4 separate regions of the Homo sapiens genome follow, and regions 2, 3 and 4 are each linked to region 1. The links come from fine-mapping of genetic effects on gene expression. A gene starts in region 1. Each other region holds a variant in brackets. All regions are shown on one strand. Distances are between the middles of the regions.

Region 1 (5,899 bases):
TGTTAAGTGAAATAAGCCAGGCACAGAAAAACAAACTTTTCATGTTCTCTCTCATTTATGGGAGCTAAAAATTAAAACAATTGAACTCATGGAGATAGAGAGTAAAATGATGGTTACCAGAGGCTAGGAAGGGTAGTGGAGAGGGGCAGAAATGGTTAATGGGTACAAAAATATAGTTAGACAGAATGAATAAAATCTAGTATTTGATAGCACAATAGGGTGACTACAGGCAACAATAACTTATTGTACACATGTAATCCCAGCACTCTGGGAGGCCGAGGCGGGTGGATCACAAGGTCAGGAGTTCGATACCAGCCTGACCAACATGGTGAAACCCTGTCTCTACTAAAAATACAAAAGTTAGCCGGCCATGGTGGTGCGTGCCTGTAATCCCAGCTACTCAGGAGGCTGAGGCAGGAGAATCGCTTGAACCCAGGAGGCAGAGGTTGCAGTGAGCTGAGATCGCACCATTGCACTCCAGCCTGGGTAACAGAGCGAGACTCCATCTCAAAAAAAAAAAATTACTAAAAGATTATAACTGGAATGTTTGCAACACAAAAATATAATAAATGTCTAAGGTGATGGATATCCCATTTGCCCTGATGTGATTGTTACACATTGCATGCCTCTATCAAAATATCTCATATACCCCATAAATATGTCTATTATGTACCATAAAAATTAAAAATAAAAAAATTTTTAAATAAAAAGAAATTTTAGATAGAAAACAAAACCTAATCTTGGCCAAAGGAACCTCAGAAAAACCTTAAAAACTGAATTCCAGGCCAAGATGGGAAGAGAGGTTAGACACACCTCTATACCTTCTCCCTTTTAAAGTTTAGGCACAACTGACCAACATTAAGGTTAAACTAGAGATCATAAGACTGACAAAACACTCTGTGGCAATAAGATACCATATTATAAACAAGACCTAGGCTGGGCGCAGTGGCTCACGCCTGTAATCCCAGCACTTTGGGAGGCTGAGGCAGGCGGATCACGAGGTCAGGAGCTCGAGACCAGCTTGGCCAATATGGTGAAACCCCATCTCTACTAAAAATACAAAAATTAGCTGGCCGAGATGGCGCGTGCCTGTAGTCCCAGCTACTTGGGAGGCTGAGGCAGAAGAATCGCTTGAACTGGGGAGGTGGAGGTTGCAGTGAGCTGAGATCACGTCACTACACTCCAGCCTGGGTGACAGAGCGAGACTCCGTCTCAAAAAAAAAAATAAATACAAATAAACAAGACCTGCGAGCCAGGCGCGGTGGCTCACGCCTGTAATCCCAGCACTTTGGGAGGCCGAGGCAGGTGGATCATGAGGTCAGGAGTTCAAGACCAGCCTGACCAACATGATGAAACCCCGTCTCTACTAAAAATACAAACATTAGCCGGGCATGGTGTTGCATGCCTGAAATCCCAGCTACTTGGGAGGCTGAGGCAGGAGAATCGCTTGAACCTAGGAGGTGGAAGTTGCAGTGAACCGAGATGGGGCCTCTGCACTCCAGCCTGGGCGACAGAGCAAGACTCTGTCTCAAAACAAAACAAAACAAAACAAAACAAAAAAACTATGGCCATGCAAGGCAAGGATTAAGTCATGCCCTACAAACCATAAAATGTCGTTAAATGGTTTTTTATGTGCAATGGTATAATGTGCCTTACTTTCCAACCTGACTGGTGTAGAATCACATGACAGATAGCAGACTCCCTTTTCTTAAGCATTCCTTTCTACTGACTTCAAGTCTTTAGACAAAGCTTAACACTGTTTTTTGTTTGTTTGTTTGTTTGTTTTTGAGACAAGGTCTTACTCTGTCACCCAGGCTGGAGTGCAGTGGCACGATCTCGGCTCACTGCAACCTCTGCCTCTCAGGTTCAAGTGATTCTCCCACCTCAGCCTCCCTAGTAGCTGGGGTTACAGGCATCCACCACCGTGCTTGGCTAAGTTTTGTATTTTTAGTAGACACAGGTTTTCACAATATTGGCCAGGCTGGTCTTGAACTCCCGACCTCAGGTGGTCCACCCACCTTGGCCTCCCAAAGTGCTGGGATTACAGTCTTGAGCCACTGCACCTGGCCTGTGTTTTTATTTGTTTTTGAGACAGGGTCTCGCTCACCCAGGCATGAGTGCTGTGGCATGATCATGGCTCAATGCAGCCTCTGAGGCTCAAGAGATCCTCCCACCACAGCCTCTCAAGTGGCCTGGGACTACAGGCAGATACCATCATACACAGCTAATTAACACGGTTTGTAGAGATGAGGGCTTACTCTGGTGCCCACGCTGGTCTCAAATTCCTGGACTCAAGCAATCCTCTCACCTAGGCCTCCCAAGATGCTGGGATTATAGGCAGGAGCCACCTCGCCTGACTAAAGCTTAAATCTTTCAACAGATTGCCGATCAGAAAATCTTTGAATCCACCTATGATCTGTAAGCCTCTCCTTCAAGACATCCCACTTCCTTAGCCTGAACCAATGTATATCTTCCATATATTGACTTATTTTACCTGCAATTCCCAACTCCCTAAAATGTATAAAACAAAGAGTAATGCCACCGCTTCAGATGCTCTTTGTTAGGACCTCTTGGGACTATTCCCTGGGCCATGGTCACTCATATTGGTTCAGAATAAATCTCTTTAAAACCTTTTACAGAATTTGTTTTTTTTCCATTAACAAAATCATCTCATTTTGAGGCAACTGAAGCCTAAAATCGTTAGAGAAGCGCTTTGCCCAAGGATTCACACAATAGTGTTGCAAATGGAGATTTAGCACTAAGTCAGCTGTGTTGTTTTCACTATACTGGGTGCCTACATAGCAACTAGACCATGGAAAGTCTTCGCATATCTACGAGGATGCAATTTTTGATAGGAGTTGGTCATAGTCAAGAGTGGCTAGATGGCCACTTCTAAATCTTGTTGGTGCTGGATTTCCTAAACTCTGTGGGATTACTTCTTTTTTTGACCTCAAAACAGAAAAATTTCCTCTGTAACACGATTCACTAACACATGAGGTAATCACACTGCTTTGAGGTCTGTAAGGATCAAGTTGGAACCGTCATCCCCTTCCCTGGCAGTCCCTAAAATCCTTCGAGATGACGTCACCCAACGAGTTCAAGAGGGCGGTGCGTTCCTAACCACACCTTCTGCAACCCAAGTGCCGCCCCTCTGACTTTCTCCTTTTTCCTTTTTTCCGGAACGCCGGAACGTAAGACGTGGGTCACGCAACAAGAGCAACTAGTCCCGGAAGCAAAAAGCAAAGAGGCGGAGAAGAAGACGGGAAGCAGAGCCCGCGTCCGGGTCGGCCGGCAGGGGGCGGGGCCGGGCATGGTAACGGCTCGGAAGCCTAGGAGGCTGGGCCGGAGGGAGGCGGAGGAACCGGTGTTCGCCGCCGCCGCTGCTTCAGCTTATTCCTTGTGGCCTCTGCGGGTCCTGCCTCAGCCATGATGATCCACGGCTTCCAGAGCAGCCACCGGGATTTCTGCTTCGGGCCCTGGAAGCTGACGGCGTCCAAGACCCACATCATGAAGTCGGCGGATGTGGAGAAGTGAGGCTTCGGGGCACGGGGTCTGGGCGCTGGCCGGTTGCTGGCCCAGGGCGGGAGGCAGGGCGAACTCTGTGCAGCCCCTCCCCTTTTCCCTGAGGCGGAGGTTCGGTCCCTCCGGACCGGACCTTTGATTGACAACTTCGATAAATAATCCAGTCACACTTCCGGGCCCTTTGGTTGGGGATCGCCAGGCGCTGCTTTCGTCAACTGTCAATCCGCCTGGGTTTGAGTAGAGTGTGACTGTTCTGGTGGACTTTCCCCTCACCAAACGTCTCCTCCTGCCTCAGCCTGCACCACCTTTCTTTCTGGGTGGCTGTTGCCTGTTTTCTTAGGGGTTAATGACGGGGATGATTTATAAGTTTGGTTTCTGTCACGTCAGGTGCTGTGCCCGGCGCTTGAGATAGGAAATGTAAAAGACAACGTGCGCCTCAATTCACAGTCTCGTGAGAGAGACAGACAATTATATTACAGCGTGAATAAATGTAATGAAGATGTATACACGGAGTGATGTGAGGTCTTTTAGGGGCTCGAACCATCTGGGAAATTGGGATGCCTGAACTGAATCTTTATAAAACCGTTGCGGGGGGCGGTGGATAGGTACATGCCATCAGGTCAGGCAGAGTGAGTTGTGATGCGTTTTTGATGCCTGGGCTGAATCTTGACAAAATTTAGGGGAATCAGGGGACGCATGTAAAGCTGGGGGCTCAGGGAGAGTGAAAGCTGTGATGTGTTTAAAGAGCTGTGTCCGTGTGATTGGAGCGTGAGGTACCATAGGGGGTGTTGTGAGAGATGAGAGGTAGGCCCCAGGGGAATCAAGATACTGAGGGAATTTTTATGCCTGGCTAAGGAGTTTTCAATTTTATCTGACAACCACTGGGTGTAATTTTATCCAAAGGAGCTGCATTATCAGATGTACGCTCTGAAAGATTTCTCTGGAGGCCATGTTGAGGCTGGATTGCAGGTCCGCAGGGATGGGAAGGAGACCAGTTAGTAAGAGAAAAGATAGGTTTTAGAAGATTAAGTCCCTGGGATGGCCAGCTGATGGGAGGAGAAATAAAAAAGGAAGAGTCTATGCTGATGACAAGATCTCTGGCTTGGATTTTTGCATGTATCGTATGCCTTTGAACAAGATGAGAAGCACAGGAGGAGGAGAAGCAGATGGGGGCAGGGTGTTGGTTAGAGGATGAGTTTAGTTTATTGAAATGTGAGGTGGGTATAGGTCATAAAGTGAAGATGTGTAGTAGGCATTTAGATATATTTATCTTGGAGCTCAAAAAAGATAACGTCTGTGGGTTTAAGTTTGGGAATTATCTGCTTATATTTGGTACCTGGAGCTTTGGGAATGAATTAAGGTATCTAGAAGTCATCCAGAGGAAAAGGTCATAAAATAGAACCCTAAGTGAGTACTTGCATTTTAAGATTTGAGCAGAGGGAGTGACCAGGGAAGAGAGGAAAGTAATGAAACGATGTTTGCTTCCTAATTCAAGAAAATAAGTGGTAATATTCTAGTAGACTCACTGAAAAAAATTAGGAAAATACAGAAAAGAAAGGAAAAAAATTTCCCTTCATCCCACCAGAAATTGAATTACTTTTTTGAGTTTTTCCTCTCTATATCTTTCTTTTCTTTTTTTTTTATAACTTTTTTTTTTTTTTTGTATTTTTAGTAGAGACGGAGTTTCTGCATTTTGCTCAGGCTGGTCTCGAACTCCTGACCTCAGGTGATCTGTCCGCCTTGGCCCCCCAAAGTGCCGGGATTACAGGCATGAGCCACTGCGCCCAGCCTTGTATAACTTTTATTTATTTTTTATTTTGTTTTTTTGAGACAGAGACTCACTCTGTCGCCCAGGCTGGAGTGCAGTGGCACAGTCTCAGCTCACTGCAGCCTCCGCCTTCCAGGTTCAAGTGATTCTCCTGCCTTAGACTCCCTGGTAGCTGAGACTACAGGCGCGTGCCACCACGCCTGGCTAATTTTTGTATTTTTATTTATTTATTTATTTTTAATTTTCTTTTCTTTTCTTTTTTTCTTATTCTTTCTTTCTATTTTTATTTTGAGATGGAGTTTCACTTGTTGCCCAGGCTGGAGTGCAATGGCGCCATCTCGGCTCACTGTAACCTCCACCTCCTGGGTTCAAGCGATTCTCCTGCCCAGCCTCCCAAGTAGCTGGGATTACAGGCATGCATCACCACGCCCAGCTAATTTTGTATTTTTAGTAGAGATGGGGTTTCACCATGTTGGTCAGGCTGGTCTTGAGCTCCTGACCTCAGATGATCCACCTGCCCTCGGCCTCCCAAAGTGCTGGGATTACAGGCATAAGCCACCGCACCCGGCCTCCTCTCCATATAACTTTCTGTGACAAATTGCCGATTGG
Region 2 (5,899 bases), 30 kb after region 1:
AATTTCTTAAAATAAGACATCAACGGCCAGGTGTGGTGGCTCACACCTGCAATCCCAGCATTTTGGGAGGCCGAGGTGGGCGGATCACCTGAGGTTGGGAGTTCAAGACCAGCCTGACCAACATGGAGAAACCCTGTCTCTACTAAAAATACAAAATTAGCTGGGTATGGTGGCACATGCCTGTAATCCCCGCTACTCGGGAGACTGAGGCAGGAGAATCATGTGAACCTGGGAGGCGGAGGTTGCGGTGAGCAGAGATCACACCATTGCACTCCAGTCTGGGCAACAGGAGTGAAACTCCGTCTCAAAAAAAAAAAAAAAAAAGACATTCAACCCTCTTAGATCCTGCCACTACTTTATCAGCTAAGTAACTAAGTATATGTAATATTCTAATCCTTTGTTGCCATTTCAACAATGCTTACGGTATCTTCAACAGTAGATTCCATCTCAAGAAACCACTTTCTTTGTTCATCCATAAGAAGCAACTCCTCATCCTGTTAAAGTTTTGTCATGAATTTGCAATAATTCTGTCACACCTTTAGGCTCTGCTTCTAATTCTAGTTCTCTTGCTATTTCCACCCCATCTGCAGTGACTTCCTCCACTGAAGTCCTGAACCTCTCAAAGTCATCCACAAGGGTTGGAATCAACTTCTTCCAAACTCCTGTTAAAATGTTGACATTTTGACCTCCTTCCATGAATCACAAATTGGCATCTGGAATGGTTAATCCTTTCCAGAAAGTTTTCAATTGACTTTGCCTGGTTCCATGAGAGGAATCACTATCTATGGCAGCTATAGCCTTATGAAATGTATTTCTTAAGAAATAAGACTTGAAAGTTGAAATGACTCTTTGATCCATGGGCTGCAGATTGTATATTGTGTCAGCAGGCATGAAAACACAGCATTCATCTCCTTGTACATCTCTATCACAGCTCTTGGTTGACCAGCTACATTGTCAATGAGCAGTGATATTTTGAAAAGAATCTTTTTTTCTGAACAGTAGGTCTCAATACTGGGCTTAAAATATTTAGTGAGCGAGGCTGTAAAGAGATGTGCTGTTATCCAGGCTTTGTTGTAGAGCACAGGTGGTAGCAACTGATCATAATTCTCAGCTCTAGGATTTTGAGAATGGTAAATGAAACTTTCTCAGTATCAGCAGTAAGGCTGTTTTGCTTTATTATCATTTATGTATTCACTGGAGTAGCACTTTTCATTTCCTTCAAGAGCTTTTCCTTTGCATTCACAACCTGGCTAACTCGTACAAGATGTCTGGCTTTCATCCTATCATGCCTTCCTTACTAAGCTTAATCATTTCTAGCCTTTGATTTAAAGTGAAAGACATGGGACTCTTCCTTTCACTTGAACACTTAGAGGTCATTGTAGGTTATTTTTTTTTTTAAGCATGGAAATAAATTTTTTTATTACTGAATTATTTCCCTTATTTGACTTTCATAAGGAAATACTCAAAAACCACTTCAAAATAACTCAATTCTCACTCATACACATAGCATTTTCAGGACACCATATTTTCTTTTTTATTATTTTATTTTATTTTATTTTATTTTATTTATTTTTTTATTGATCATTCTTGGGTGTTTCTCGCAGAGAGGGATTTGGCAGGGTCATAGGACAATAGTGGAGGGAAGGTCAGCAGATAAACAAGTGAACAAAGGTCTCTGGTTTTCCTAGGCAGAGGACCCTGCGGCCTTCCGCAGTGTTTGTGTCCCCGGGTAGTTGAGATTAGGGAGTGGTGATGACTCTTAATGAGCATGCTGCCTTCAAGCATCTGTTTAACAAAGCACATCTTGCACCGCCCTTAATCCATTTAACCCTGAGTGGACACAGCACATGTTTCAGAGAGCACTGGGTTGGGGGTAAGGTCATAGATCAACAGCATCCCAAGGCAGAAGATTTTTTCTTAGTACAGAACAAAATGGAGTCTCCTATGTCTACTTCTTTCTACACAGCCACAGCAACAATCTGATTTCTCTATCTTTTCCCCGCATTTCCCCCTTTTCTATTCGACAAAACTGCCATCGTCATCATGGCCCGTTCTCAATGAGCTGTTGGGTACACCTCCCAGACGGGGTGGCGGCCGGGCAGAGGGGCTCCTCACTTCCCAGAAGGGGCAGCCGGGCAGAGGCGCCCCCCACCTCCCGGACGGGGCGGCTGGCTGGGTGGGGACGCTCCTCACTTCCCAGACGGGCGGCTGCCGGGCGGAGGGGCTCCTCACTTCTCAGATGGGGCGGCTGCCGGGCGGAGGGGCTCCTCACTTCTCAGACGGGGCGGCTGCCGGGCGGAGGGGCTCCTCACTTCTCAGACGGGGCGGCTGCCCGGCGGAGGGGCTCCTCACATCCCAGACAGGGTCGTCGCCGGGCAGAGGTGCTCCTCACATCCCAGACGGGGCGGCGGGGCAGAGGCGCTCCCCACATCTCAGACGATGGGCGGCTGGGCAGAGACGCTCCTCACTTCCTAGACGAGATGGCGGCCAGGAAGAGGCGCTCCTCACTTCCCAGACTGGGCAGCCGGGCAGAGGGGCTCCTCACACCCCAGACGATGGGTGGCCAGGCAGAGATGCTCTTCACTTCCCAGATGGGGTGGCGGCCAGGCAGAGGCTGCAATCTCGGCACTTTGGGAGGCCAAGGCAGGCGGCTGAGAGGTGGAGGTTGTAGCGAGCCGAGATCACGCCACTGCACTCCAGCCTGGGCAACATTGAGCACTGAGTGAACGAGACTCCGTCTGCAATCCCGGCACCTCGGGAGGCCGAGGCTGGCAGATCACTCGTGGTTAGGAGCTGGAGACCAGCCCGGCCAACACAGCGAAACCCCGTCTCCACCAAAAAAATACGAAAACCAGTCAGGCGTGGCGGCGCGCGCCTGCAATCGCAGGCACTCGGCAGGCTGAGGCAGGAGAATCAGGCAGGGAGGTTGCAGTGAGCGGAGATGG[C/T]GGCAGTACAGTCCAGCTTCGGCTCGGCATCAGAGGGAGACCGTGGAAAGAGAGGGAGAGGGAGACCGTGGGGAGAGGGAGAGGGAGAGGGAGAGGGAGAGCCATTGTAGGTTATTAACTGGCCTAATTTCAATATTGTTGTGTCTCAGGGAACAGAAAGGCCTGAGGAGAGGGAGAGAGATGGGACAATGGAAGGTCAATGGACCAGTCACAGCACACACTACATTTATCGATTAAGCTCATTGTCTTATATAGGCAGAATTGTTGATATCCCCCAACAGTTAACAATAGTAACATCAAGGATCACTCATCACAGATCACCATACAGATATAATCAATGCAATATCTGTGAAGCACAATAAACCAAAGTACAAAAAAAGACATACACCCATATGTAATTAAAGTCCAAGAGAAAACAGAAATGGACTGCGGGATAAGAAATATCAGTAGAGGCCGGGCGCGGTGGCTCACGCCTGTAATCCCAGCACTTTGGGAGGCCGAGGCGGGCGGATCACGAGGTCAAGAGATCAAGACCATCCTGGCCAACATGGTGAAACCCCGTCTCTACTAAAAATACAAAAATTAGCCAGGCGTGGTGGCACGCACCTGTAGTCCCAGCTACTCGGGAGCCTGAGGCAGGAGAATTGCTTGAATCCGGGAGGCAGAGGTTGCAGTGAGCCGAGATTGCACCACTGCACTCCAGCCTGCCAATAGAGTGAGACTCCATCTCAAAAAAAAATAATAATAATAAAATAAAAAGAAAGAAAAAAATGTATCAGTAGAGATAATGGCCAAGAATTTTCCAAAGTTAATGAAGAACAGTAACTCACAGGTCCCAGAATTCCAGAAATTCCACATTGTAAGTCAAACTGCTGAAACCAAAGATAAGAGTTAATCTCTCAAAGACAGTTGGAGGAAAAAGAAACATTATATACAGAGAAAGAAACACATAAGAATTATAGCCAACTTCTGGTCAGGGAGTAAATGAGCAAGAAAATAATGAAGCGAAGGTCCATGTAAGGAGCTTGGAAGTCATCATTCCATCTTGACAATAAGGAAAATGCTGGACAAAGTGAAGACACAACTCTTCTTGGATCCCTCAGAAAAGTGACGTTACAGGGCAAAATGCTACTCCCAAAATTGAAGAGACAGGCAAATACAGAGAATTACAACTTAATGGAGCAGGAACTCAGAAGCAAAAACCTCCGTGGGCACTAGTGCCAGGGTAGGAAAATCTAAATTGTGCTTGACAAATAGCTGGAGGCTCAGTGTGGACAAGTTTGAGATTAAAAACTCCAAGGGGGCCAGATGTGGTGGCTCATGTCTGTAATCCCAGCACTTTGGAGCCCAAGACAGGCAGATCACCTGAATTCAGGAGTTCGAAACCAGCCTGGCCAACATGGCAAAACCCCATCTTTACTAAAAATACAAAAATTAGCCAGGTGTGGTAGCATGCGCCTGTAATTTCAGCTACTTGGGAGACTAAGGCATGAGAATCACTTGAACCCAGGAGGCAGAGGTTGCAGTGAGCCAAGGTCACACCATTGCACTCCAGCCTGGGCAACAGAGTGAGACTCCATCTCAAAAAATAAAATAAAACAAATAAATAAAAACTCCAGGGGGACCCAGTCATAGGGCAACCGCCACACTTCTCTGAGTTTTACCTCCAGGCACTCAATCAGGTTCTCACAGTAAAGACTGGCCAAAAATCCCTTTGGGATTTCATCAGGGGAAGGGGACAAATAACCATTTTCAAATATGCCAGAGCTTTCTCTTGTTAACAAGGCCTGCCCTTGAGAGAAACTGTTTTACTAGAGCCTAATCTAGTAAAGTTTTTTCAGAGTCTTACTGATTGGGGGAAGAGAAATATCCAACTCCAGTCAGCTCTAGCTATCCTGTTCCACCCAATGGTGGGGAGGGAGGTACGGAGAAGCACTTGTGAAGTTCACAGTCCAGAGGCACAGGCTCATTAAAAGACTGAGACTGAATCCTATTCGACCTTTGAACTCACAAAGACTTTCTTCTTCCTCTTTTGCTGATGTTGTTTACAGGCACTCAGAATGGTCCAGCATTTGATATACCATCGTAGGCTTTCCTACAATATAGCCTCTAACAAAACTAGGCTGTCCCAAACCCCAGGTAATAGAATTGTTTACTTTTATACCAAGAAGGTTGGGAAAGCACCAAAATCTGCATGTGGCATGTGCCCAGGCAGACTTTGAGGGGTTCGTGCTGTGAGACCTAAAGTTCTTATGAAATTGTCCAAAACAAAAAAACATGTCAGCAGGGAATATGGTGGTTCCATTTGTGCTAAATGTGTTCATGACAGGATCAAGCATGCTTTCCTTATCGAGGAGCAGAAAATTGTTGTGAAAGTGTTGAAGGCACAAGCACAGAGTCAAAAAGCTAAATAAAAAATGAAACTGTTGCTGGGAGTGGTGGCTCACACCTGTAATCCCAGCACTTTGGGAGGCCGAGGCGGGCAGATCATGAGGTCAGGAGTTCGAGACCAGCCTGACCAACATGGTGAAACCCTGTCTCTACTAAAAATACAAAAATTAGCTGGGCATGGTGGCATGCACCTGTAATCTCCGCTACTTGGGAGGCTGAGGCAGGAGAATCGCTTGAACACGGGAGGTAGAGGTTGCAATGAGCCCTGCATTCCAGCCTGGACGACAGAGCGAGACTCCTTCTCAAAAAAAAAAAGGAAAGAAAGAAACTTTTTTGAGCAATAAAAATGAAAAGACTTTAAAAAAAGACTGAGACCTAATCATAGGACTATAAAATACCTTTCCTTCCCACACATCTTCCCACACATTACTAAAGGCCTTTTTACTATAGCCCCTTTTACGTACATCACGTTCAGGTATCAAGAAAAAAAACTACAAGGCAGACTAAAAGGCAAAACAGAACAAAAACTCCACAGTTTTAAGAGACAGAGCAATCCTCAGAAC
Region 3 (5,899 bases), 800 kb before region 1:
CATTAAAGAACCTTAGATTAAGTTTCCAGGAGTTTGACCTTAAATCCTATAGCTTAGTGCTTCCTAAGATTTGATTTATTTAAGAGTCATTAATGGCCAGGCGTGGTGGCTGACGCCTGTAATCCCAGCACTTTGTGAGGCCGAGGCAGGCAGATCACGAGGTCAGGAGATCGAGACCATCCTAGCTAACACAGTGAAACCCCATCTCTACTAAAAATACAAAAAAAATAGCCAGGCGTGGTGGCAGGCGCCTGTAGTCCCAGCTACTCAGGAGGCTGAGGCAGGAGAATGGTGTGAACTGGGAAGGCAGAGCTTGCAGTGAGCCAAGATTGAACCACTGCACTCCAGCCTGGGTGACAGAGTGAGACTCCGTCTAAAAAATAAAAAAATTAAAAAATCACTTGAGGAATTAGAAAAGTTTCCTGAGCCCTAACCCCAACCTCCCAATTACTTTTTTTCTTATTTTTAAACTATTAGGTTCAGGGTTACACTCAGGTTTGTTATGTAGATAAACTACATGTCATAGGGATTTGATGTACAGATAATTTCATCACCCAGGTAATAGGCATAATACCTGATAGGTAGTTTTTTCGATTCTCATCCTCCTCCCACCCTCTACCCTCAAGTAGGCCCTGGTGGCTGTTGTTCCCTTCTTTGTGTACATATGTACTGAAAGTTTTATGGCTGTATAGTATTCCGTTGTGTATATGCACCACATTTTTTTTAATCCAGTCTAGTGTTGATGGATATTTAGGTTGATTCCATGTCTTTGCTATTGTGAATAGTGCTGCAATTAACATACGCATGGGTATGTGTCTTTATGGCAGAAAAATTTATATTCTTTTGGGTATATACCCAATAATGGGATTGCTGTATCAAATGGCAATTCTAAGTTCTTTGAGAAATCGCCAAACTGCTTTCCGCAATGGCTTAACTAATTTACATTCCCACCAGCAGTGTATAAGTGTTCCCTTTTCTCCACAACCTCGCCAGCATCTGTTATTTTTTGAGTTTTTTTGTTCTTTGTTTTTTGGGATTTTAAGAGATGGAGTTTCACTCTTGTTGCCCAGGCTGGAGTGCAATGGCACGATCTCGGCCCACCGCAACCTCCGCCTCCCAGGTTCAAGCAATTCTCCTGCCTCGGCCTCCCAAGTAGCTGGGATTACAGGCATGCGCCACCATGCCCAGCTAATTTTTTTTTTTTTTTTTTTTTGAGACATAGTTTCACTCTTGTTGCCCAGGCTGGAGTGCAGCAGCACAATTTCAGCTCACTGCAACCTCTACCTCCTGTGTTCAAGCGATTCTCCTGTCTCAGCCTCCTGAGTAGCTGGGATTATAGGCGCCCGCCACTATGCTGGGCTAATTTTTGGTTTTTAGTAGAGATGAGGTTTCACTATGTTGGCCAGGCTGGTCTCAAACTCCTGATCTCGGGTGATCCGCCCACCTCGGCCTCCCAGAGTGCTGGGATTACAGGCGTTAGCCACTGCATCAGGCCTTTTTGTTTTTTTGTGTTTTTTTGAGATGGAATAAATAGGAAATGGATTCACAGGCTCCTCGTTCTTGCTCTATTTGTTTGTTTGTTTTTGAGATGGAGTTAAATGGCATGATCTTGGCTCACTGCAACCTCTGCCTCGCGAGTTCAAGCGATTATCCTGACTCAGCCTCCCAAGGAGCTGGGATTACAGGCATGCGCCACCACACCCAGCTAATTTTGACTTTTTTTTTTTTTTTGAGACAGAGTCTTGCTCTGTCACCCAGGCTGGAGTGCAGTGGCACAATCATGGCTCACTGCAGTCCCAGCCTCTTGGGATCAAGCAGTCCTCCCACCTTAGCCTTCAAAGCAGCTGGGAGTACAGTGTGTACTACCTCACCTGGCTAATTGAGAAAAAAAAAAAAGTTTTTTATAGAGACATGTCTTGCTGTGGTTGCGCAGGCTGGTCTTGAACTCCTGGGTTCAAGCGATCCTCTTGCATCAGCCTCCCAAAGTGCTGGGATTATAGGCATGAGCCACTGTATCTGGACTCACTTAGAGGAGTCTAATGTGAATGGCCCAATATCTTCCAATAAGAAAGTCTTCTGTCAACTCTACTAAACCACAGATTTAATCAGAAAAGTGGCATTTCCAAGTTTTTATTTAATAAAGTTCATGTTGAAACTTGGGTAGGGAAAATTGGTAAATAAGTAGGTAGATGGACAGGACCTGGTGGCCAGTTATATTTGATTAATGATAGGAAAGAAGTATCTAGGTATAATGCCTGGGTTTTTAGGAAACTACGAGGGTTGATAGGGTCAGAGAAAATATATATGTAGTGTTAGAAGAACCTTGGTGAAACCAACCTTTTAGGTGTAAAGGATTAAGTAGATTCAAAAGATACTGCATTTTCAGAAGTCAAAAACTAGTGGAGAGTGGTAATC[G/A]CAATGGAAGAAAATGCCAAGAGGGAAGGAGAAAGTGACCTAGATCAGAAAGACTTAGGAAGGTCAATGCAAAGTGTGTTTATTAGATTTGTTAATTGCCAAAGCCTTAAGATAGAATGAGATTGCCTTCATTCACTTTCAGCAAAGCCAAGGGCGTTGTCTTTCCCTTTTCATATCTGGGACCTCATTTTATTTCAATTTTATTTGTCTCAAATCAAGATAGTAGGAATAATGAATTACTGTTCATTCTGATTTTTTGGTACTTGCAAAAGTATGTGTATGTTTTTAAACACTCCCCCAACTTCCAGACTTTTATAAGATTGGGAAAATAGCACAGATAATGTAATACTGATTGGCCTTAGAGCCAGTGACCCTGGACAACTCACCTAACCTTTCTGAGTTTCCCATATTTCCCTTTTTATCTTCCCCTTCACTTACATGGGTGAATTACAAAAAAAGTTTTACTACCCTAACATCAGGAAGGTCATTATAATGTAGTAGCAAAGAGCATAGACTCTAAAGCCAAACTGTCTCTTTGTGAATCTTGGCTCTGCCACTTACCTGTGTGTCCTGGGGAAAGTTAACTTTATGGGCCCCTGTTTCCTCAACTGTGATATTAGGATACTTTCAGTGTTCACCTCTAAGAGTTGTAGGGAGTCAACGAGTAAACACATGTAAGGCACCTTTTAGAAAGCTGCCTCCTACATAGTAACCTTTCTAAATCTTTGCTGCTGTTACCATTATGACATTATCATGATACCAGTATCATCCTCAGTCAACAAACGATAGATAACTCAGAGAATGAAAAGGTTGTTCCTTTATATAGTTTCCCTAGAATCACCTTGTACCACTGCTGCTGAGTTGCAATCATTCGTTAGTCGTATGTGACCTAGATTCCATTTTCTAAGATTATTCAACAATGTAGAGGATCAGCGTAGTGGAAATACGTCTATAAACATTTCTAAGAATTGAATTCATTGTAATTAATAGCATCAGAGAAGCTGAAAATCCAAAGAGCTAATCTCTTAACTTCATGATGGAGGACAAAGATTTTATCTTTTGGAATTTTAATAATGTTTCCAGCATGAGATTAGCCTTCAATATTGATTTCTGGAATTCTGTTTTCCCTTGTTTTTCATTGATTAACCTAAAACTTTTGAGATGTAGTTCATATTTTTGGTAATATTGCTATGATTATATAACTGTAACTGTCTAGAATTTAATTTCTAGCAAGGGAAATTTAAGCCTTTTCCTCAGAATTATTTTTCATGGGAAAATTCTTACTGATAGATTACTGGACTTGAGTCATAATTTATTGGTTATCTTATTCTGCCCTATCTACTCTCAGCACTAATTATAAAAATAATCAAAGAAATGTTTTTGGTTAGAAAACTGTTGTTCATTTGAGTTTTGTTTGGGTTTTCATTGTTTAGGTAAGGGAAAGTGGCAAGCGTTTTTTTTTTGTTGTTGTTTTTGAGATGGAGTCTTGCTCTGTCGCCCAGGCTGGAGTGCAGTGGTGTGATCTTGGCTCACTGCAACCTCCGTCTCCCAGGTTAGAAGGATTCTTCTGCCTCAGCCTCCTGAGTAGCTGGGACTACAGGCGCATGCCACCACGCCTGGCTAATTTTTTTGTATTTTTAGTAGAGACTGGGTTTCACCGTGTTAGCCAGGATGGTCTCGATTTCCTGACCTCATGATCCACATGCCTCGGCCTCCCAAAGTGCTGGGATTACAGGCGTGAGCCATGGCGCCTGGCCAAGCATTGGTTTTTTAAAAAGTTCTAAACCTCTATGGGCCCTTTCAGCCTTTTCAGCTGACCTTGTTTGGGGGTAAAACCTAAGGTTTGAATTTGTTTACTTATCTGCTTTTGTCTCTTACAGATTAAACTAACTTTCATTGTTAAACTTTAAAGAAACTCCTATGTTGAAATAGCCTATGTTTAATGGAACTTCATTTCTGACCTTTGTGCTCTCTTCTCTTTTTTTTTTTTTTTTTTTTTTTTTGAGACAGAGTCTTGTTTTTTCACCCAGGCTGGAGTACAGTGGCGCAGTCTTGTCTTAACACAACCTCTGCCTCCTGGGTTCAAGCAATTCTCTTGCCTCGCCTCCCGAGTAGCTGGGATTATAGGTGTGTGCCACCACACCCGGTTAATTTTTGTATTTTTAGTAGAGATGGGGTTTCACCATGTTGGCCAGGCTGGTCTTGAACTCCTGACCTCAAGTGATCTGCCTGCCTCGGCCTCCCAAAGTGCTGGGATTACACACATGAGCCACCGCGCCTGGCCCTCTCTTTTTTTATTATTGTTTTTGAATATTCTTTAGTCTTTTCAAAACAATTTTATTTAATTAGTTTTAATAGTTAACATAGTTTTGTTCCTCTAGACTACCCTTCAGTATTTTTCAAACCAGTAAAGTTTGATATTTTAATTAATTCACTCAAAAATTAGTTGAGTGCCTGCTGTGTCATATAGTGCTCTGATAGTTAGGGATGTATTTTGAACAAGATGCAGGCCCTGCCCTCATTAAGAGACGTCAAATAGTAAACATGTAAACAAATGGTTTAGATACCAATAAGTACTAGTCAGGTAGCGGATCATAGTAATCTGGTAATGGTTAACCTAAAGAAGAATGGGCCCATGGTCTGGAAAAGTCTCTCTGGAGAAGCAATATTTGAATTGGGAACTGGTGAGGAAGGATGAGGGAGAGGTTACCACACCTAGAATCTGAAGACAAGAGTCTTGTAGGCAAAGGAATGTGAAACACCTGAGATGGGAACAGCTTGACCTGATCCAGGAAAAGAAAAGCCAAAGTAGCTGGAGTTCAGTGAGTCAAAGGAAGTGGTAGAAGTTGAGATACGATAGCTAGACAGGGCCAGATACCTAGGGCTGCATAGATTTTGTTCTAATTCTAATATAAGGCCATGACAGCATTTTAATTGGGAAATAATAAGATTATAAAGATCACCCTAACTATTATATGGAGATTGAACTATAGGGAGACACTTGGGGAAGGAGGATGGTCATTTAAACTTCCATAAACCTGCCTTTTAAGAAATGTTTGTAGTAATATATGCTGAATTTTATTTAATCATATTTGCTTCAATATATATTTCACTTGTCCCAGATCAGCAAAAGTCAGGGTTCTTTAGAAAAATTCAAATCTATTTAATATATTTATCTTATTTGTGACCTACATTATGAAATAAATATTAGTATCTTTTGATAGCTTAAATTTAGGCAGTGCTTAGTTACTTATAAATAAGTGATAAATTCTATGGCTAATCTCTGGCAGGCTTAAGTGTTCTGGCTGTTGTCCTACATATTACAACATTTAATATATCCAAATTTAGTAACCTAATGAAATCATAATTAGGAAGCTATTGCCTCAGATAATCTTATCACATATTCAAAAGAAAATGGTAAAATCCCTTTTGTTTGGTGTGCTTTGTCGAATACTTTCTACCATTGCTCTTATCACAGCAAACA
Region 4 (5,899 bases), 690 kb after region 1:
CTAAATGGCTCTAAAGTTATTTGAGACCAATTAGTTCACAGCATAGTAACATAAGTGGCCCTTATTGAGTCAGAAGTTGGCTTTTTTTTTCATATTTTTTCTAGTCAGTCAACTGAGAATCTTTGTAATTTCAAAATAACACTTTGGGACGATGTGAAAATTCTTCCCCAAACACTTACAGTATTTACTTCTATAACATGACTCATAATGGGTCTGGGCTCATGAGAAGGCAAGACCTCTGTGTGAACCTGAAAGTTTCTACCTCCATCCTTATCCCACCGAGTCTTGGTGCCTGAATGTGATCATCACTATTGCTTCTTACCCACAAGAATTTGCCTTGAACCTTCTTCCTAACAGAAACTGAAGCTTGCTAAAATATTGAGAAGTCAATTATTTCAAAGGACATTAAATCCTTAAGTGGTTTAGTCAAACATGGCAACTCCATTCCCCTTGGAAAGTGATTTGTTTAGGCATGGGCATGTGATCTAATTTTGGCTGAAGTGATGTCAAGGAAAGTCTGTCGGTGAGGCTCTAGGAAGGTTTTCTCACTCCTAAAAATGAACACAAGTCTAGCAGTTTTATTTTCTGTTTCTGGATGTTGTCACCTGCTTAAGATACCTGCAATGAGAGAGCCATCTGGTACCATCATGGGAACCAGCCTAAGAGGATAAAGCAAATTACTGTAGATGACAGAACAGAAAGGATGGATACTGGGTTCTTGGTAGCATCACTGAGACACTGAATTACCCAGCTTTAGAATTCCTCTAGCTCTGCATTTCTCCTTAAGGGACAAATAAATAGCCTTGTTTACTTGTTTTTTATACCATTTATCTTTGTTTGTTTGTTTTTAACTTCCAGCTAAAAGTACCCTAACTGATAAATTGAACTACCACATTTATTCATAATGTTTAAAGCATTGCACCTCTAAGAATCCCATCAGAGAATGTGAATTTTCTCTGGAAAGACTATAAAATAAAAACTTAATAACAGTAAAAATGATTACAAATAATAATAAAATCATCATTGTTATTATTTGGCATCATGGAAAACATAGGTTTTAAAATCAAATAAACCCAAGTTTAAAATCTGTCTCTATCTTGCCAGCTTGGTGATCTCGGCAAAATTATTTAACCCTTCTGATATTGATTCCTCATATTTTAAAGGGAAGTGATATAATAATATTTTGCAAGATTGCCGTATAAATTGTGATAGAGTATATAAAGCATCTGGAACATAGCAGGTATTCAGTAATTGGTAGCTCTATCTATTGGTCTTTTTCTCATCTATAAAATTGGTATACTAAAACTTCGCTCCTGAAGTTTATGTGAGTTCTAAAGGAGACAATGAATGTATGTAATCAGCACTTTACACATAACTATAATAGTCTCTTTGGGGATGGAAAATGGAGTGATCAGATTGACAAGGGAATGGAATGAAGGCATTGCTATCTGGTGAGAGGGATGGGAGACATTGGTACAACTTGAATGTTAGAAGAGGAATACCATCACAGGGGCAAAGGGCCCAAAGACAGCCTTTATCTTTCTCAATATTTGTGTAGGGACTTCTTCTCCTTAGAACTAAAAAAACAGGAAGTAAAATTTATAGACCCCTAGAGCCAGCAAAACCAATAGGTCAGGTTTACTATCAAAAGGATATTTCTTTAACAGATCTTTGACTCTTTCTTAGTGGCTCTCTCTCTCTATGTGTGTCTCTGTCTCTTCTCTCTAATTAAATGCCTACCCTGTGCTCTTACACATTTGGTGACTTTCAACAGTTATTCAGAATTTTAAAATCTTCCATGGTTTTTAGACCAGTTCCATTTAAAAAAAAAAATTAAGGTTGATATTTCACTTTGGTCTTAAACCAGAGCCAAGTAGGCTTTTCTCCAAAGAATGCTGGCACCTGTGATTCTACTACATGAATGCCAGGAAGTATGCTGACCAACGAGTTCTCATTTCAGATAAGCAGTTAATTTGTGGTGACCTTGAGCAGCCACTTTACTTACCTGGGTCATAATTTCCTTACCTGGGTATAATTTCCTTGGCTATAAAACAAGAGGGGTTGCATTAAGTCCCCTCTCTGAACTCAGAATCACCACCTGGCCCTTCTTTGTGGCCCTCCAGTCTCATGAGTCTTTTCAGTCTATGTGTATAATAATGTCTCTCTGTATCATTACCTTATTGTATAAACATCTCCCTGTGCATGTTTCTGCCATACCTAGGTGACCCAGCAGAGATTACTAAACTCATTTCCTCTTTGTCTTCGGTGTACAGTTAAACTTCCCTCGTGTGGCCACAAAACCATTCACCCTTCTCCTGTCTTCCTGCATCTGCTGGTGGAACCAAAAGACCCAGTGAAAGACTTTGAAGTCCTGGAACATGGTGGAAACAGCTTCTCTGACACCTTCACGTCCCCATCCATCCCCACACTTCGCCCCTGCCACCTCTCACTGGATTATGATATCAGTGAGAATGCATCTTCATTGTGTTAAAACACTGAAATTTGAAG[A/T]TTATTTAGTATAGTATTTGGCCTATTCTGACTGTACAACCCAGCTATGTAAAGTCTTAGAGACTAGGCAGTGTATTGCCTTCTTTTAAGAAATGAGGCAGTTTACAGGGCCCACTTTGATTATTTGGGCGGTTCCATAAAATGGTCACAACATGGGATTTAAAGAGATAAAAACAAAAAGGGGGAAAGTAAAGACAGATTTTCCTAAGTAAAAAGGAACTCTCTTTTTAATGCCAATGTTTTCTCTTCAATTAACAGCACAATTAACAGTGCATACCTCCTGGGAACATGTTACCAAAAGTTAGAAGGCCAAATTCCCTCAGCCTCTATCCAGCATCACAAATAACTTCAATGAGAACCATAGGAACATCGAGTGTCCTGTGAATCTGAGAACTGCAATGGGCCCTAGGGGCTCTTCCATCCAGGCTTATCATGATTCAGGAGAAGAAATTGAGGACCGAAGACATCAAATATAATAAGCTAATGGAGGAACTGAGGCTACTTGCCTGGCTCCAGTGCTCTTTCCTTTGCCTCAAAATCTTTACAGGTCAGCCATCTATCATGTGTAGAATAAGCAAACTGAATTAACATTGGAAATATTAAAAGAACAGAGGTTGCGTGGATATTGGTTGGAACAGAGAAGAAGTTTTCACAAGGAATTAAAGTAACACCAGCTGCTCACTGCTCTGACTTAAACCATACAGCAACTCCAGAAACATGGGGGGTGTTGTTGAGTGGCAAGGTAAGCTCAAGAATGCTAAATGTGTCTGAAGGCAAAGGGGATTATTTGTCATTGGCCTTCTGACTCAAAAAAGCCAACATATATATATATATCTCAAAACCTACTGATAAGCAGAAAGAATATAGGGCTGTTATACTTGGTTGGCATCACTTTGTTCAGAAAGCAAGAAGGCAGCTGCATTCCACACTGACCAAAACTATTATATCAGGTTGTGCTTCTCTTAGTCTTAGGTGTCTTCTCGTAGGACTGTTTTAAAATTCAACACGAGGGGAGAGGGAACAAGCTAGACACAGAGAAAATAGTTATATATTTAGAGGACTGTGAGATCTTAATAAAATTTAACCGTATGGGGGCTCTATTGCATTTACCATTCATTCAACAAAAGTTACTGATTGCCCATTATGTACTAGGCCCTGGTCTAGGCACATGGAATACACAGATGAATAAATATGTTCACTGTCCATTACTTTCTCAAAAGTTGAGGGGCCAGAAAACTAAAATGAAATGAGACAGACACTACTGGGGCTCAGGCTGGGTTGAGGGGAGGGCCTTCAACCCTGCCTTGCTATATTAGCAAAGGCTTCTAGGAGAGGAGTTGAGGCCTTTTCACGCTTTTTGAAGGAAAGATCGTGTTAATCAAGTAAATTAGAGAAAAGACATTCCTAGTGGAAGAAACAACCATGTCAAACTTCAAAGAATGATCAGGAAACTATAATAAATGTATTCTTTCTCTAGTGCATATTGTTGATGAGTATTTGGAGCAAGACACAGGTGTGTGCCATTCTGCACTTACTTGGTAATTAAGTGAAAAAAATCTAAAACTGAAAATTTAAGAGTAGATTTTCAAGTATTGTTTCAAAAGTTCAAACAATATTAACAAACTCAGTGTCTCACCCCACCTATTGGCTTTGCTTTTCGTTTTATTGACCCATTTTCCAGTAAGCTGTCTACTTAAAGAGACTGGTAGCTTGAGACTTAAGTAATCAGAACAGATAATAATCCTACAAAAAAAAAAAAGAGTTTTATTCTAATAGTTCCAGCAAGTCTTGAGATTGCATCTCATTGAGCTGGCTTCAGTCACATCACATTCCTGAACTAAGGCCCTGGTAGTACAAAGCTCAATCCTATCATCTTGACTGTCCTCTTCAGAGAAGAGATTTTCTTCTCTTCTCTGCACCTCCGTCTAACCTGTACTAAAGTTATCATTAGTTTTTCCTTAAATTAGAGAATCCAAACACATCAAACTCATGCAAAATAATGATGCCAGTTCCCTTCCTTACATTACACACACAAAAAATTAACTCAAAATGGATTATATACCTAAATGTGAGAGTCAAAACTATAAAACTCTTACAAGGAAACATAGGGGTAAATCTTTGTGCCCTTGAGTTAGGCAAAGCCTTCTTAGAAATGACACTAAAAGCGTAAGCAACAAAAGAAAATAGATAAATTTGACTTCATCAAAGTTTAAAAGTTTTATAATACAAGTAATACTATTAAGACAAATGATCGCACAGAGAATAGGAGAAAATATTTGGAAATCATATAACACATGTGACAAGAGACATGTATCCAGAATATATAGAGAACTCCTACAATTGAATAATAAAGGATAATTAATCCAATATTTAAATGGGCAAAGAATCAGAGTAGACATTTCTCTAAGGAAGGCATATGAATAACCAATAAGCTCAAGAGAAGATGCTTACAATGATCATTCATTAAGGAAATGCTAACTAAAACCACAAGATACCACTTCACAAAGCCACTATAGAGTGGCTAATAACAAGAATCGTAGAGGATGTGGAGAAATTGAAACTCTCATGCATTGCCACTGGGAATGTAAAATGTTGGAGCCACTTTGGAAGACAGATTGGTGGTTCCTCAAAAGTTGAACATGGAGTTACCTTATGACCTGGCAATCCCACTCCTAGGTACATACTCAAAAGAATTGAAAACAGGTACTCAAACAAATACATATGCAATCATAGTCATAGCAGCACTATTCACAATATCCAAAAGGTATAAATAACCCACATTTCAATCCATTGATGACCTGATAAACAAAATGTAGTATATCCCTCCAACGGCCTGTTGTTTGACAATAAAAAGGAATGAAGAATTGATCATAGTACAACATGAATGAACCTTGAAAACATTATACTAAGTGAAAGAAACAAGTCACAAAAGACCACATATTAGATTATTCCATTTATATAAGACATTGAGAATAGGCAAAGCTATAGAGATGGAAAGTGGATTAGTGGTTGCCAAGGGCTTGAGGGATGGGGAGGGATTAGGAGTGACTGCTGGTGGATAGTTCATTGCTTTTTGAAGTGATGAAGATATTCTAAAATTAATTAGATTCTGGGGGTTGTCACACAATCCTGTCAATATATTAATATCATTGAATTATTATATACTTTAAATGGATGAGTGGTATAGCATGTGAATTTTGCCTCAATAAAGCTGTCTAGTGAAACACAGTATAGACAAAGTATTTGAATAGGAATTTTCCCAAAGAAAGTATGCAAAAAAAGCCAACAAGCACATAAAAAGAGGTTAAACATTGGTCACTAAAGAAATGCAAATCAGTCCTGTTGTAGTGGCTCATGACTGTAATCCCACACTTTGGGAGGCAGAGGCGGG

Alleles and levels. Positions count from the first base shown, and alleles are read on the strand shown. Sizes are in standard deviations (SD) of each study's normalised expression. Not every link is listed here.
For the expression in prefrontal cortex of the gene that starts at base 3,311 in region 1, A is the low allele of the variant in region 4 and T is the other (large effect, 0.94 SD a copy in ROSMAP).

Evidence for each region. PIP is the estimated chance that this variant, and not a neighbour inherited with it, causes the effect.
Region 2: its variant is the best candidate, but not a certain one, in a credible set for the expression of TIPRL in whole blood (INTERVAL, PIP 0.59).
Region 3: its variant is the best candidate, but not a certain one, in a credible set for the expression of TIPRL in rectum (CEDAR, PIP 0.52).
Region 4: its variant is the best candidate, but not a certain one, in a credible set for the expression of TIPRL in prefrontal cortex (ROSMAP, PIP 0.55).

What each region holds. Positions count from the first base shown.
Region 1 is chr1:168,175,652-168,181,550 of GRCh38, forward strand. TIPRL (TOR signaling pathway regulator) reads left to right here and starts at 3,311. Exons shown (of 7, transcript NM_152902.5): 1 at 3,311-3,530. The coding sequence starts at 3,427. RefSeq lists enhancers at 2,934-3,435, 3,423-3,542.
Region 2 is chr1:168,205,611-168,211,509 of GRCh38, forward strand. It overlaps the pseudogene RPL34P1. Among named protein-coding and RNA genes, the nearest start is that of SFT2D2, 17 kb to the right of the region's middle. RefSeq lists an enhancer at 2,565-3,157. The variant C/T (reference allele first, on the strand shown) is at 2,946.
Region 3 is chr1:167,377,211-167,383,109 of GRCh38, forward strand. All of the region lies in intron 7 of POU2F1 (POU class 2 homeobox 1), which reads left to right. Among named protein-coding and RNA genes, the nearest start is that of CD247, 140 kb to the right of the region's middle. The variant G/A (reference allele first, on the strand shown) is at 2,416.
Region 4 is chr1:168,866,211-168,872,109 of GRCh38, forward strand. LOC105371606 (a long non-coding RNA gene) reads left to right here. Exons shown (of 2, transcript XR_922261.3): 2 at 2,767-3,989. Among named protein-coding and RNA genes, the nearest start is that of LINC00626, 82 kb to the left of the region's middle. The variant A/T (reference allele first, on the strand shown) is at 2,509.